2 separate regions of the Homo sapiens genome follow, and region 1 is linked to region 2. A link means that fine-mapping ties the variant in region 2 to the expression of a gene that starts in the linked region. Tissue or cell type: skeletal muscle. Region 2 holds a variant in brackets; the other region holds the start of a gene. All regions are shown on one strand. Distances are between the middles of the regions.

The links. PIP is the estimated chance that this variant, and not a neighbour inherited with it, causes the effect.
Region 1: it holds the start of ZNF483, and the variant in region 2 is fine-mapped to the expression of ZNF483 in skeletal muscle (GTEx, PIP above 0.99). The same link has a PIP of 0.9 or more in subcutaneous fat and sun-exposed skin.

What each region holds. Positions count from the first base shown.
Region 1 is chr9:111,520,289-111,528,427 of GRCh38, forward strand. It overlaps ZNF483 (zinc finger protein 483), which reads left to right and starts at 4,891. Exons shown (of 6, transcript NM_133464.5): 1 at 4,891-4,974; 2 at 6,980-7,519. The coding sequence starts at 7,108. RefSeq lists a silencer at 4,794-5,143 and enhancers at 5,244-5,443, 5,555-6,054.
Region 2 is chr9:111,569,557-111,577,556 of GRCh38, forward strand. PTGR1 (prostaglandin reductase 1) reads right to left here. Exons shown (of 10, transcript NM_001146108.2): 8 at 5,178-5,286; 9 at 535-653. It also overlaps a transcript of ZNF483 not described here. Among named protein-coding and RNA genes, the nearest start is that of PTGR1, 26 kb to the right of the region's middle. RefSeq lists enhancers at 1,207-1,376, 3,297-3,466. The variant G/C (reference allele first, on the strand shown) is at 4,028.

The DNA of each region.
Region 1 (8,139 bases), 49 kb before region 2:
CTTCCCTGTACCTATTCTGGAGCTATGTTGTGTACCTTGAGAAAAATCATTTAATGTACATATTGATGTAACATAAAATGGGGGTTTCTAACCTCAAATGGGCCCTTAACACTGCAGGGAAATCCTTCTGTGTTTTTGTGATCAACTCATATTCTCCCAGCAGCCATCTACTCTTTTTTTTTTTTGAGATGGAGTCTCGGCTCTGTCACCCAGGCTGGAGTGCAATGGCGTGGTTTCAGCTCACTGTAACCTCCACCTCCCAGGTTCAAGTGATTCTCCTGCCTCAGCCTCCCAAGTAGCTGGGACTACAGGCGCGTACCACTATGCCCGGCTAATTTTTTTTTTGTATTTTTAGTAGAGACAGGGTTTCACTATGTTGGCCAGGCTGGTCTCGAACTCCTGACCTCGTGATCTGCCTGCCTTGGCCTCCCAAAGTGCTGGGATTACAGGTGTGAGCCAGCACGCCCGGCCAAACCTAATCTACTCTTATCAAGCTTCAGATCCCACCCGTATCTCCCTTCTGGGGAGGTCCCAATAGTGGATCTCAGCAGGATCCATTAGATACCAGTTCCAAATCCAACTGCATCTACCCCCTTCTTTGCCTCCTTCCCTGCTATTACAATGAACACTGCATGCTGGCTCTGGCAGTTTAAAGCTAATTTCTCCACTTGTGCTTCCCCCTAGTTTCTCAGTCTTCACTCTACAGCATATTCCCACACTCTCTGTCTTCATCCCCTTTCTCTCTAGTGGATCCTTACGGGAGCTTCGTAGCTCACTTGCTTGCTATTTCTTTTTCTTTCTTTCTTTCTTTCTGGAACATACCACCCTCTGTGGCTCTACAGAGCCAGGCAGGAGGAATTTTTTGTTATTTCTTTTCAGGAGAGGGTCAGCTCCCCTAGAGTGGCTCTGGGATCTTTGGAGTCCCAGTTAAACCAGGACTGGAGGCACCTGGAAACAAGGACTTGGTGTCCTTGAGGCAGCTCAAACCTTTAGAGCTCAGAGGCCTCCAAAGTGGATGCACAAGAGCCCTGAGGGTCTTAAGGAGATAACTCCAAAGCTGCTAGGTGGGGAAGCCAGGACTTCAATCAGGAATGCACCTCTTTCATCTGTAATATTTCTTTTGGACAGTTTGGCAATTAACAACTAGTTTTAAAACACCTGTTTTAGATCCTTGATCAGAGTCCCAGCCTGTCCTCCTCCCTCTAGAGATGGGGAAGATGTGCTCCTTTCTCCTAAAAGCCTTGGGCTCAGAGCCAGTCAGTTTCCAATCTACCAGTTGAGTGACCTTGGGCAAGCCCCTCCCTGCGCTGGGTCTCATTTTTGAAAAAATAGGATATGGGGAGGGGTGGGCAGGACCTTGGGTCTTCAGTTTCTTTAAAGTGGAGTGAGTCTAGAAAGAAGACAGGGAAGCCGGGCGCAGTGGCTTACGCCTGTAATCCCAGTACTTTGGGAGGCCGAGGCGGGTGGATCACGAGGTCAGAAGTTCAAGACCAGCCTGGCCAAGATGGTGAAACTCCATCTCTACTAAAAATACAAAAATTAGCCGGGCGCAGTGGCAGGCGCCTGTAATCCCAGCTACCTGGGAGGCTGTGGCAGGAGAACTGCTTGAACCCGGGAGGCGGAGGTTGCAGTGAGCCGAAATCGCACCACTGCACTCTAGCCTGGGTGACAGAGCTAGACTCCGTCTCAAAAAAAAAAAACAAAAGAAAAAAAGAAAGAAGACAGGAAAATTAGACAGACTCTCCCCTTCAGATACACAAACAATCATACATACTTCCTCCCCAACTCTGTGTACGGGAACAGAGGCTGGGCAAGGGTCTAAGAAAACAGGAAATGTTAATACAAATAACAGGTCAGGCCAGGAGCAGTGGCTCACCCCTGTAATCCCAGCACTTTGGGAGGCCAAGGTGGGCAGATTACCTGAGGTCAGGAGTTTGAGACCAGCCTGGCCAACATGGCAAAACCCCATCTCTACTAAAAACACAAAAATTAGCCAGGTGTGGTGGTGAGCCCCTGTAATCCCAGCTACTCAGGAGGCTAAGGCAGGAGAATTGCTTGAACCTGGGAGGTGGAGATTGCAGTGAGCTGAGCTGAGATCACACCACTGCACTGCACTCCAGCCTGGGCGACATTCCGTCTCCAAAAAAAAAAAAAAAAAACAAATACACACAAAAAAATCATAGGAGAACACTATGCAGCAATGAAAATAAACACTGTATAATCACATGCAACAATATTGATAAATCTCACAGACATAATGTTGAATGAAAGAAGTCATAATATATGAAGAATATGTACTGTAGGATTCTACTTTCTTTCTTTTTTTTTTTTTTATTTTTGAGATGAAGTCTCACTCTGTCGCCCAGGCTGGAGTGCAGTGGCGCAATCTCAGCTCACTGCAACCTCTGCCCCCCTGAGTTCAAGTGATTCTCCTGCCTCAGCCTCTTGAGTAGCTGGGATTACAGGCAGGCGCCACCATGACCGGCTAAGTTTTGTATTTTTAGTACAGATGGGGTTTCACCGCGTTAGCCAGGATGGTCTCAATCTCCTGACTTCGTGATCCGCCCACTTCGGCCTCCCAAAGTGCTGGGATTACAGGCGTGAGCCACCAGCCCGGCCCTTCCATCACCTTTTAAACCACCTTCATTTTATGTCACCATCATGTTACCTGGATTATGATAAGACAAAGTCTTTTTATCTCTGGTGTTACTTCTTTCTAATCTACTGTCCATACTGAAACCAGAACAGTTAAACGAACAAACAAACAGCTCACTTAAAGTTCTCCTAAGTATGTTTTCCTGTTTAGAGATCCCACCAGCTTGCTTACCAGTGGAACTGATTTGTAGTTTCCTGCTTCCTTCCTGATGCACAGTCCATCACTCCTTACCATGATGGTTACTTTTAATCAAAAGTTATAGTTTGACTACCAGTTCCAAAAAGATGCCATTCTTTCCTGGTAATTTATTCATAGGTAGCATGTCATTTACTTACAGAATATTTCAACTAGTACTGTGTTTCTCAAAATACAAGATCACCTGCAACAAGTTGATGGGTGGGGAGGGCCAGAAGGTTCCAAAATCTGTATTCAAATAAAGAACACCATGTGATTCTAAAGTACAGTAAAGCTTGAGTAAGCTTTACTAAGTAAAGTGCCTCTGACTTGCCTGGTTAAAATAATGAGCCAATAGACATTTCCTATTCCTTTGCCTTCTCCAGCTTCTTCCTGATGCGTCTAAAGCCAGCCAAGGGGAGGTGGGTAAAGGAGAATATGCCATGGGACTCGGGACTGAGAAAACTTTTGTCTTCATTCTCAGCCCTGTTTCTTTTTTTTCTCTTTTTTTTTTTTTGAGACGGAGTTTCACTCGTTACTCAGGCTAAAGCGCAATGGCCTGATCTCAGCTCTTCACAACCTCCACCTCCCGGATTCAAGTGATTCTCCTGCCTCAGCCTCCCGAGTAGCTGGGATTATAGGCATGTGCCACCACACCTGGCTAATTTTTTGTATTTTTAGTAGAGACAGGGTTTCTCCGCGTGGGTCAGGCTGGTCTCAAACTCCCGACCTCAGGTGATCCACCCGCCTCAGCCTCCCAAAGTGCTGGGATTACAAGCATGAGCCACCGCGCCCGGCCATTCTCAGCCCTGTCTCTTCAGCTTGACTTGCTGCCTGTGATAAGCCCACTCCTTTTGAGAGGAGTGGTTCATTTAGTTGAGCTTGCTCTGCCCTTTTGAAGTCTCAGGGCCTTGAATCACCTTGCTCCTTCAGTCTAGAATGAATCTAGTCTTTCTCTCCTAACTCCACCCCTTCAGGGATCATCCAGTTATTAGAACCCTCCAAACAATTTTTCTGGAGTTCTTTGGCCCTTTTTGCAATGCCCCCAATAATCCATGCAAATACTCATTCATAAGCTCAACAAATATCTATTGAGTGCCTGCCATGGGCCAAGTCCTGTTCCAGGACCTAAACACACAACCTAGAACAAATGAAATAAAAATACTTACTCTTCTGAAATTAGTATTCTACTGGAGAAGGCGGACAAGTAGTAAAAAAAAAAATTAACAAACCTATAGGGCATGTTAGAAGAGGAAACAAGAGTAAGGTGGGATTCCTATTTAAGTGGAATGGTGGGAGAGCTTCATTGAGAAGACCTGAAGGGATGAGAGAGCGGGCCGTATGGCCACTTAGGGAAGGAGCAGGTCAGCCGGAAGTACCTGGCAGGTTACAAGAAGAGGAAGGGGTCTATCAAGATTGGAGCAGGAAAGTGGGGAAGAGGTGCGGGAGGTTACAGGGGCTAGATTCCATCAGGCCTTGTAGGCCACTATAAAGACTTGGGTTTTAACTCTGAGTGAAATGGGAAACCATTGCAGGGTTTTAAGCAAAGGAGGGTCATAATTTGACGTTTTTAAAACGTCCGTCTGGCTGTGGAGAATAGCCAAGAGAAGTAAGGTATAATCAAGAAGCTATTGCAATAATCCAGGTGAGCCATGAGGGTGGACTGGACCATGGGGGCAGGTGTGGAAGTCATAAGATTAATATGTGTTTAACTCAAGTTGTGGCATTAATTATGGCTTGCATTAAATGCATCGGTAATATGCTTCTGCGGTGGATTTTTCCACCTTAGATTTCAGGGAATGGAAGTGATGGGAGCGGGTAGGGAAGGTCTGAGGTTACTAAACAGATGGAGCCTCCTGGATCTGCAAACCTCATACGATTCTAGGCCTCTGAGCCTCTGGCGCAGCAATAATTCTGCAGCCGAGCCCACTAGCCGCTTCCCAGTGACCATGCGCAACAGGCAGGTGGGAGCCTATGGAAAGCGCGGACTTTCGGAAAGCTGCACGAGCGCGTTCGGGGAGTCCGGTTCAGCGCCTCTGCGCAGGCGCAGTGGTTCCCGCAGGCTTGCGCGCGCACTCGCTGCGGGACAAGCTTCTGGAAGCTCTTTGCGGTGGCGTTGGTGCTGTTTGCGGATGCTGATGCAGGTACTGGTCGTCCCGGGCCCCGAGTTTCGGGGCCGTGGCCGGGTCGCCGGCTCCGAGGGCGCACTTGGGGCGGGATGGGGGCCGGGAGCAGCCTACCAACGGGCTGTGCGCTGCGCTGCTGCTGCTTCTGTGGGAGGTGCGCACTCCGCTGCGGGATGGGGCTGTTGGCTTCCCTCCATCCCTCCCTGCGCCACTTGGGCACTGTTGACATTTTGGGCGGGATAATGCCTTGTTTTGTTTGTGGTGTGGCGGTGAGGGGGAGGCTCTCCCGTTGTGGCAGGATGTTTAACAGCGTCACTGGTTCTGCCCGTTAGATAACAGTACCACCTCTCGTCCTAGTCGAGCTAACCAAAAATGTGTCCAGACATTGCCAGAGGACCGCTGGGGGGTGAAATCTCTCCTTTTTTCTTCCCTCTGGTTGAGATCCTCTGGCTGCGTCACATTTTCACCGGGCCTCCTATGTAAACTCCCTGTAGACGGAGCCGAGTGTCTTAGTCATCGCGGAGCCCCAGGTGCTCAGCACGGCGCCAGGTACGTGGTGGGCGCCTAATATTTGGCAGAGGAATAAATGACGTCATGCTGCTGTGTGCCGGGCGCTGTACTCGGAAGTGGGTTGTTATTGGTATGGTAGTTGCAATGCGAGGCTGTCACATCCTTCACTTGTCGCATTGTAGTCCCGCTCCGGCTGTATTGTCATTTCCTGGACCCTCTGTGAGCGTGAGGACCCTTTCAGGCCTGTCCACGCCTGGCCCCGCAGCTCATGGCCCCTGGTCTCGTTCCAGCTCATTGTAGTTGCTCCGTCACTTATAGAATGAATGAATGAATGCAACACAGGGCAGTCTGTGTGCAAAGGAGTGCTTTGGGATCAAGCAGAGCATCACACCAGAAGTGACAGTTGAAAGGAGTCAGGCTTTAAAGACGAATAAAAGTTTGGTAGGAGAAAGAAAGCAACATTCCGAGGAGAGGGAATAGCCTTGGTGCAAAGGCTAGGAGAGTATGTAGAGAGAGAGGAGATACTAATTTATGGCTGTAGTGTCAATCGGGTAGCTAGAGCTCAAGAGGTGAGGTCATCAGACAGTGTCTCTAGATCACAATGCCATGGTCCCTGCATGTGAACTTTATCGAGAGACAGTTCGGTGGCTGGTGAGGGACTGTAAGCCGGGGAGTGATAAGATCATATTTTGCATGTTAGAAGGAATTTTTTGGCCACAGTGTGAGACTGGAGTGAAGAACCCTGTACTTAGGCAGTTTCAGAAGGATAGAATGGAGAGGTTCTTAGGAAATAAAATCGCCAGAACTTGGCGATTGATGGGAGAAGTAAGGAGGAAGAGAAATTTGAAAGTCAAATATTAAATTGGGCTTCTGAGTTGAGCAACTAGTGAGAAATGTGTGCCCTTTCATTAAGAAAGGGTAGGAGTTGTTAAATAGCTTTGTGACTGGGTCCCCTTGTGAACCTTTTCTGATAACATTTTGTTTAGGAGGAGTATTCAATCTAAAGCAACTGTTTCCTTAACCCTTAAGTAGCTCCCTGGTTTTTGACTATAAAGAAAATTATGGCTGGGCACAGTGGCTCACGCCTGTAATCCTGACACTTTGGGAGGCTGAGGTGGGTGGATCGCCTGAAGTCAGGAGTTCAAGACTAGCCTGGCCAACATGGCGAAACCCCGTCTCTACTAAAAATACAAAAATTAGCCAGGCATGGTGGTGGGCGCCTATAATCCCAGCTACTCAAGAGGCTGAGGTAGGAGAATCACTTGAACCCAGCCGGGGCAGAGGTTGCAGTGAGCCGAGATCGCACCACTTCACTCCAGCCTGGGCACCAAGAGCGAAACTCCGTCTCAAAAAAAAAAAGAAAGAAAGTTATCCTTTTAATTGAGCAGGGCTTTTCTAGGCCTTTGCTGGTATGTGTGTGGATATATTTCTCTGAACCAAACCAAGAACGATGTTTTTAGGACTAACAACAGTTTTTTTACTTATTTAATGCCTTAATATTTCTTCTTGACAGTTTCTGCAGGACTGTAAACTGGATTCCTGGAACCTTTGATATTCCTGGCTGTGTATAGTGCCTGTTGGTGGACTGTACTGATACTCAACTAGAGTGTGAAGGGACTGGATTCCTGCCCCTGAGACACAATGCAAGCTGTAGTGCCCTTGAACAAGATGACAGCCATCTCACCAGAACCTCAAACTCTGGCCTCGACTGAACAAAATGAGGTCCCAAGAGTGGTTACTTCTGGGGAACAAGAAGCTATTTTAAGAGGAAATGCTGCTGATGCAGAGTCTTTCAGACAGAGGTTTAGGTGGTTTTGTTACTCAGAAGTAGCTGGACCCAGGAAAGCTCTGAGTCAACTCTGGGAGCTCTGCAATCAGTGGCTGAGACCAGACATTCACACGAAAGAACAGATTTTAGAGCTTCTGGTGTTTGAGCAGTTCCTGACCATTTTGCCTGGGGAGATCAGGATTTGGGTAAAGTCACAACATCCTGAGAGTAGTGAGGAAGTGGTGACCCTAATAGAAGATTTGACCCAGATGCTTGAAGAAAAAGGTGAGATTTATAGATGGAGGGAGGAAGCGGGAGACATTGCCTCAAAGTCCGAAAGTAAATTCCTCAAAAGAAGGCAATTTACTGCTAAAGAGGAGTCTGAGGTTAGAAGTTGGGACTGGGTTTGAATCAGCCCTGCCATTTACTGTGTGATTTTGGGCAAGCTGTGTAAACTCTCAGAATGTAAATATTTTTATCTGTTAAAAAGGGATTTTATCTTTCTTGTAGTTTTCTTGTAAAGGTGAGACAAGATAGGATATAATATATGGTGGATGCTCAAGAAATAGTAATTTCTTTCCCATCCCCTTCAAGAACACAAGTTATCTGTGAAAGTGTTTGGAGTCACAGGCAAATCAACCAGCTCAGGCCCTAATGCCTAGTTCCATTGTGTGGACTAGCACGTTGCTAGAGGGTGGCTGTGAGTGTCTTTGCTGATGGAAATGTTTCTGCACTGTTTTGCAATTCAAGTACATGAAAAGCAGCTAGTGCAAATAAGGAACTGAATTTTTTAAATCAAATTTAAAGTTTAAATAGCCACATGCGACTAGTAACTATTTTATAGTGCAGTTCCACAGCCTTAGGGCAGGAAAACCTGGATATATGTATGTAATTACATATTATAA
Region 2 (8,000 bases):
CACTTGAGACCAGCCTGGCCAACATGACGAAAACCTGTCTCTACTAAAAATACAAAAAGTTAGCTGGGCGTGGTGGTACACACCTGTAGTCCTAGCTACTCGGGAGGCTGAGGCATGAGAATTGCTGGAACCCAGGAGGCGGAGGTTGCCGTGAGCTGAGATTGTGCCACTGCACTCCAGCCTGAGCAACAGAGTGAGACTCTGAAAAGCCTCATATGTGGGTTTAAGGAAGAATGGAAAGAGAGGAATGGCAGACAGTGAGTGTAGACAGCACTTCCAGGTATTTTGTTATAAAAGGGAGAGAAGGGAAATGGACCTGCATTTGCAGTGGAAATGAACTTTAGAGAGGGTTGTTTTGTTTTCCTTTCAAAGATGGGAAAAGTAAGAATATTTATACTCTAAGCACAATGACCCAATAGGGAAAAACTGACGATGCGGCAGAGATGGGGAAGAATTGGTAGAACAAAAGCCTTGAGAGGCAAAGGGAGTGTGACCTAGTGTACAATTGGAAGGGGTGGCTCCGGAGCTCCTTACCTCTAAGACCCATTTCAGCAAGTCCTTCAGAGCTTTTTGGCGGGCATCTCCTTGCCAGCGGTAGACGACAAAAGCTTCCATGCGAAGCTCCTGATAGATAACAATCTCTGGGGGTGGGCCTGTGAAGAGAAGGGCACATTTGGGTGGCAGGATCCAGGGAGGTGCCCATGGTGAAACAAGCAGTACAGGTCACTGTCACTGTGCTTGGTGCTGGGAGTTTTTTGGTGCTTCTCCCCTTCCATTTCCTCACTCCTTTCTGATCCACGGGACTGCTGGCCAATCAACATGCACTCTGCAGCCAGGCAGAATAATGGCCCCAAACATGTTCATATCCAAAAACCCCAGAACCTGTTCCTTACATGGCAAAAAGGACTTTGCAGATATGATTAAGAAGTTTGGGGGTGGCGCGGTGGCTCACACCTGTAATCCCAGCATTTTGGGAGGCCAAGGCGGGCAGATCACAAGGTCAGGAGTTCGAGACCAGCCTGGCCAACATAGTGAAACCCCCGTCTCTTCTAAAAATTAAAAAAAAAAAAAAATTAGCTGGGCATGGTGGCGGGTGCCTATAGTCCCAGCTACTTGGGAGGCTGAGGCAGGAGAATTGCTTGAACCCGACAGGTGGAGGTTGCAGTGAGCCAAGATCGTGCCACCGCACTCCAGTCTGGGTGACAGAATGAGACTCTGCCTCAAAAAAATAAAAAGAAAAAAAGAACCTTGAGATGGGAATATTATTCTCCACTATAAAGATGGACCCAATATAACAGCAAAGGTCTTCGTAAGGGAATGAGGGATACAGGAAAGTTACAGTCAGGGACAGAATATGGGGTGATAGAAGCAGAGATGAGAGAGAGGAGGAGGAGGAAGAGCCTATGCCCCTGGCTTTGAGGACAGAGGAAGGGGCCACATGCCAAGAAATACAGGCAGCTGCTAGAAGCTTGAAAAGGCAAGGAAGCAGATTCTCCTCTAGCATCTTCAGAAGGAATGCAGCCCTGCCAACCCATTTTACTTTTAACCTCTAGACCTACAAGAATAAGTGTGTGGGGTCGGGTGCGTGGCTCATGCCTATAATCCAGCATTTTGGGAGGCCGAGGCAGGCAGATCACTTGAAGTCAGGAGTTTGAGAGCAGCCTGGCCAACATGGTGAAACCCTGTCTCTACTAAAAATACAAAAATTAGCTGGGCATGGTGGCACATGCCTGTAATCCCAGCTACTCAGGAGGCTGAGGCAGGAGAATCGCTTGAAGTCGGAAGGGGACTGCAGTGAGCTGAGATTGCACCACTCCACTCCAGCCTGGGTGACAGAGCGAGACTCGGTTTCAAAAAGAAAAAAAGAAGTAAACAAACAAAAGAATAAACATGTGGGTGTTTTTGTGTCTGTGTGTTTTGTGGTTGTCGTTTTTAATTTGAGACAGGGTCTGGCTCTGTTTCCCCAGGCTGGAGTAAAGTGGTGCCATCACTGCTCAATGCAGCCTTGACCTCTTGGCTCAAGTGATCTTCCCACCTCCGCCCTGCAAGTAGCTGGGACTATAGGTGCATGCCACCACACCTGGCTAATTTTTTTTAGTTTTTGTTTGTTTGTTTGTTTGTTTGTTTTTTCTGTCAGAGATGAGGTCTTACTCTATTGCTCTGGTTTGAAACTCCTGGGCCAAGCGATCCTCCTGCCTCAGCCTCCCAAAATATTGGGATTACAGGCATAAGCCACTGCGCCTGGCTAAGAATTTGTATTTCTAACAAGCTCCCAGGAGATGGTGATGCTGCTGGTCCTTGGCCCACACTTTGAAAACCAGCACCCCAGAAAAAGCACACAGCTCTCCTGCAGCCTGTAAAGAAGATACTACCCTTCTGCGTGTAAGGAAGAAAAAGTTTTTTGGTTGCCTGGTTGATTTTCCCAAGTGTCCTAATTGACTAGAAACTGACAGAATGACACCTCAGCATAGGCTTTCAAGTTCCAGGAAGTCAGGCGAAGATGCCTGGTGTGCTAAGACGAGTGGTGGAATCTAGCTTCAGCATCTTTGACCACTGGCACCACTCAGCCTAAAGTTCCCACTGATTACTTTGAGGAAAGTAACATTAGCAGTTGGAAATATGAAGCTTTGTCCTGAACCAAAAGAAACTAATGCAAGAGAATGAGACAGAAAGAGTGCTTCTTCAGAAGACCCACATCAACTATTCTTTGTGAGTTAGGGATTGGAACTCTCATTTCCTCATCTTAAATGAAAGTGGGATGGGCATGGTGGCTCATGCCTGTAATCCCAGCACTTTGGAAGACTGAAGGGAGCAGATCACGAGGTCAGGAAATCAAGACCATCCTAACACAGTGAAACCCTGTCTCTACTAAAAATAAAAAAAATTAGTCAGGCGTGACGATTTGTGCCTGTAATCCCAGCTACTCAGGAGGCTAAGGCAGGAGAATCGCTTGAACCGGGGAGGCAGAGGTTGCAGTGAGCCGAGATCGTGCCATTGCACTCCAGCCTGGGCGACAGAGTGAGACTCTGTCTCAAAACAAAACAAAAAACAATAGCCAGGTATGGTGGCACATGTCTGTAGTCTCAGCTACTCGGGAGGCTGAGGTGGGAGGATCACTTGAGCCCAGAAGGTGGAGGCTGCAGTGAGCCATGATTGCGCCACTGCACTCCAGCCTGGGCAACAAAGCGAGACCCTGTCTCAAAAAAAAAAAAAAAAAAAAAAAATTAAAAAATTAAAAAAAAAATCTCCAGTCTGGGAAACAGAGCAAGACCTTGTCTCAAAACAAACAAACCAATAAACAAAAAAGCAAAATGAAAGTGAAATGCTGTTTCTGGATTTGTGCGTGTTGATGAGAATGTTGGTTTTTGTTTTTTTACTGAGAGCAAAAAAGCATATGTAGCATTAAACCTGGAGGAAATCATTGCTTGCCTCTGAGCTATCCTAACAGTGGAATATGTTAGAATTTCTGGGGCTCTGTGGCAGGGCAGAATTCCATCTGATTAAAATGGAACGGACAAGGCCAGCTGACATCTCAAAGTCCTGTCTGAGCAGCTGAGCTTCCAAAGACTAATTGCTAAAAAGACTAGATCGAGTTACTGTATCCAAAATATTTGGCTATTCCTAATCGGACTGTGGTTAAGAAAAGGCCTCCTGCAGCTTTGCTCAGTTGGCAGGCAGACAATTTCCCATGATTCCAGCTTAGCACCAGTTAGAAAATTATAGGGGGAAAAAAAAGTCCCTAACAATAAGATTGCCAAGTAAATCTGGAGTTTCCTTCTTGGTAATGATTTTGATTTTTCACAACCTGAGAGGGAATCTACAAGTTGCCCTTTGTCAGCCCCTTCCTTTCTAGCCCCCCCATCTCCATACAGTTGTGTGGTGGTTAACCAGTGGGGCTATAAGGTTTCATTCCCATTAGTCAAGCTCATCATAGAATAAATAACCATTGATTTATGGTTGCCTGGATCCTGATTAGAGTCTGGAAGATTCCTTTTTTTCCTACTTTCTCGTACTTTCTCCTTTTTTG[G/C]GGGGGGACCATAGGTAATTTGTGATCTCTCTTAATAGCACAGAATCACTGTAGCAGAAACAGACTCTGTATGAGGAGCTTAGAAGACTGGTCTTTGTTTTGAGTCTGTTGCCAATAGGAGTTAAAGAGTCTCTGGTCCTCTTGGCCATTCCTCTCCACACCCATAAAATGAGAGGCCTGTACAAGGCATCTCACAGGACTGGGATTTAATGAATATGGTTCTCTGGTTGATACTGCTTTTGGACCTCAGAGTGTGGAGCGGGAGGGATGTGGTTTCAGCATAAGAGAGTAGGGAGTGGGGAATGGAGCGCATGGCAGGGCACCAGAGAAATAAAACAAGGACAATCAAGGAATGGAGGGAAGCTGCTGCTCCCTTCCCTTTTAGTGGCAATTGTCAGCCTGCTGAGGCCAAGACGCCCTACTGCTCCAAGAAGCACTGCCCAAGATTTCTGAAGGGCATGGCAGTCTGCTCTTCCCTTCACCCACAGCAAGTCACACTTTATTCCTCTCGCACCTCCAGCAATGTCTCTAATATCCAGAGGAACCTGAATATTTTACCAGCCAGACCAAGGTGTTCTGTTTCTAAATCAAATCATCACTGTCTTTTTACAGTTTTGCATTAAATGATAGGTAAAAACTAAAACTTTTAATAACTGTTTCTTTTATATTTGTAGATCTTGCTGTTTCTCTACATAAAAATCTAATATAAGCTGATTTAGCACAAAATATGTGAAATTATATATATTTTTATTTCTTTTGTTATTGTTTTTGTTATTATTATTTTGAGACAGGCTGTCACTTTGTCACCCAGGCTGGAGTGCAGTGGCAGGAACACAGCTCACTGCAGCCTCGCCTCCCAGGCTCAAGCAATCCTCCCACTTCAGCCTCTTGAGTAGCTGGGACTACAGGTGTACACCACCACACCCAGCTTATTTTTGTATTTTTTGTAGAGACGGCATTTTGCCATGTTGCCCAGGATGGTCTCAAACTCCTGAGCACTCACAAAGTGAGACTCTGTCTTAAAAAAAAAAAAAAAAGAATATATGAAAATCTTTCTAATAATTTCAGAGTCACTGGCCTATGGCATATCTGTGAATTTTCTCCTTGTCCAGCCTTGTGACATATGGGATCGTGTGCATGTGCTCATTACCTGGGGGAAGTGGGCCGGTTCTGTTATATGTAGAGATGGCTCCACATATGGCAATCCTTCCAAATTTCTTCATCTGGCCGATAACAGTGTTTGAAAACTCTCCACCTACCTAAACAGATAGCAAAGACAAAATGTTAAATAATCTAAATACTAGAGATTCAGGAGAATCATTAAGTCACAAGCATTATTTTACAATACCTGTTTTAGCAGCAACAAAACTGACTGAATTAGCCCAACAGTGCAGAAGACTGCAGTTAGAAAAAGACATTAGAAACAGGCATTTTCGGCCGGGCACGGTGGCTTACACCTGTAATCCCAACACTTTGGAAGGTTGAGGTGGGTGGATCACCTGAGGTCAGGCGTTCCAGACCAGCCTGGCCAACATGGTAAAATCCTGTCTCTACTAAAGATACAAAAAATTAGAAGGGCATGGTGGTGGGCACCCATAATCCCAGCTACTTGGGAGGCTGAGGCAGGAGAACTGCTTGAACCCAGGAGGCGGAGGTTGCATTGAGCTGAGATCACACTACTGCACTCCAGCCTGGGCAAGAGAGCAAGACTCCATCTCAAGAAAAAAAGAAAAATAAATAAACAGGCTTTTTCATTTGATTCTAAGACCATACCTTTTATAACTTATACATTTTCCTTTATTATATATTGAGGTTCTCTGATCAGTCCAATAACCTCATTGTCTTATAATTTAAAGGTATGGAAAAATACTCAAAAGGTGTATAGAGAACAAAGTTGGAAGACTGGCACTTTTCAATTTCAAAACTTAATACAAAGCTAAATTAATTAAGATAGTGTGAGAGTAGAAATACAGATCAATGGAACTGAATCACGAGTCCAAAAATGAACCCTTACATTTAGGATCAATTGGTTTTCTACAGAAGTGCTAAAGCAGTTCAATAGAGGAAAAATAGTCCTTTCAATAAACGTGCCGAACAACTGGATTTCCACATGGAAAATAATGCAATTGGGCCTCTTCCTTATACTACACACAAAAATTAACTTAAAATGCATCGTAGACCTGAATGTAACAGCTAAAACTATAAAACTCTTAGAAGAAAACACAGGAATAAATATTCATGACTCTGAGAAAGGAAAAGCCTTCTTAGACATGACACCAAAAGCTCAAGGAACAAAAGAAAAATAGATTAATTGGGCTTCATCAAAATTTAAAACTTTCATGCTTCAAAGAATACCATCAAGAAAGTGAAAGCCAGCCTGGGCAACATAGTGAGACTCCATCTCTACAAAAAAAAAATACATAAAAATTAGCTGGGTATGATGGTGCATGTCTGTGGTCCCAGCTACTTGGGAGGCTGAGGCAGGAGGTTGGCTTGAACCTGGGAGGTCAAGGCTGCAGTGAGCTGTCATCACATACTGCACTCCAGATTGGGAGACAGAGTGAGACTGGTGAGACTGAGTCTCAAAAAAAAAAAAGGGCAAAAACAAAAACAGAAAGAAGGTTAAAGGCAATTCACTGAATAGGAAAAAATATTTGCAAGCCATATAGAGTTGGTCCTCATTATTAGTGGATTTCATATTTGCATATTGTAAACTACTTGCTAAAATTTTATTTGTAACCTCAAACCAGTACTCACTAAGCTTTCCCTGGTCACTTGCAGACATACATGGAGCAGTAAAAAAGATGCAGATGTTCTCTGAGGCTGAATAAGACCATGCTCTGCCTTCTTGTTTCAACTGTTACACAGAGATGACCAGAGGATGGGGCCACTGCAGTGCAGTTCAAGAGGCTCTGGTTCGGGGAAGAGCTGGATGGAGTATGAATCCCAACTCTGGGGGTATTAGCTAGTGGAGTGGCCATAGGCAAGTTACTTAACACTTCTGAACCTCCTTTTGTCTTTCATAAAATAAAAGCTACTAGGATGAGTTGTTTTAAGGATTTCAGATTATAGTCTATGTGAGATATGTGCAAACATGTACATATTTCCCCTAGAAGCAATGGTTTTCAGCCTTGGTGGTGACCTTATAGAACATAAATATTGTGAATAATGAAAATCCACTGAATCTAATAAGGGACTTGTATCGGTAAGATGTAAAGAACTCTTGGCCAGGTGTGGTGGCTCATGCCTATAATCCCAGCACTTTGGGAGGCCAAGGCAGGTGGATCACCTGAGGTCAGGAGTTCGAGACCAACCTGGCCAACATGACGAAACTCCGTCTCTATTTAAAATACAAAAATTAGCTGGGCATGGTGGTGCATGCCTGTAATCCCAGCTACTCGGGAGGCTGAGGCAGGAGAATCACTTGAACTCGGGAGGTGGAGGTTGCAGTGAGCCAAGATCGCGCCACTGCACTCCAGCCTGGATGACAGAGCAAAAAACTGTCTCAAAAAAAAAAAAATCTTACAACCTCACAAATAACCTAGTTCAAAAATGGGCAAAGATTTTGAACAGATATTTCTCCAAAGAAGATATACAAATGGCAAATACATACGTTGAAAGATCCTTAATATTGTTAGCCATAGGGAAATGCAAGTCAAACTCAAATCAGAATGAAATATCACTTCAAACCTACTAGGATGGTTATAATAAAAAAGACAGACAATAGCACGTGTTGGTGAGTATGTAGAGAAGTTGGAACCCTCATACACTGCTTGTGGGAATGTAAAGTACTGTAGCCACTTTGCAAAACAGTTTGACAGCTCCTCAAAATGTTAAACATGAAATTATCATATGACCCAGCAATTCTACTCATAGGTATATACTTAAAAGAAATGAAAAATCCACACAAAAACCTCTGCATGAATGTTCATAGTAACATTATACTTCATAGCCAGAAAGTATAAGCTAATAC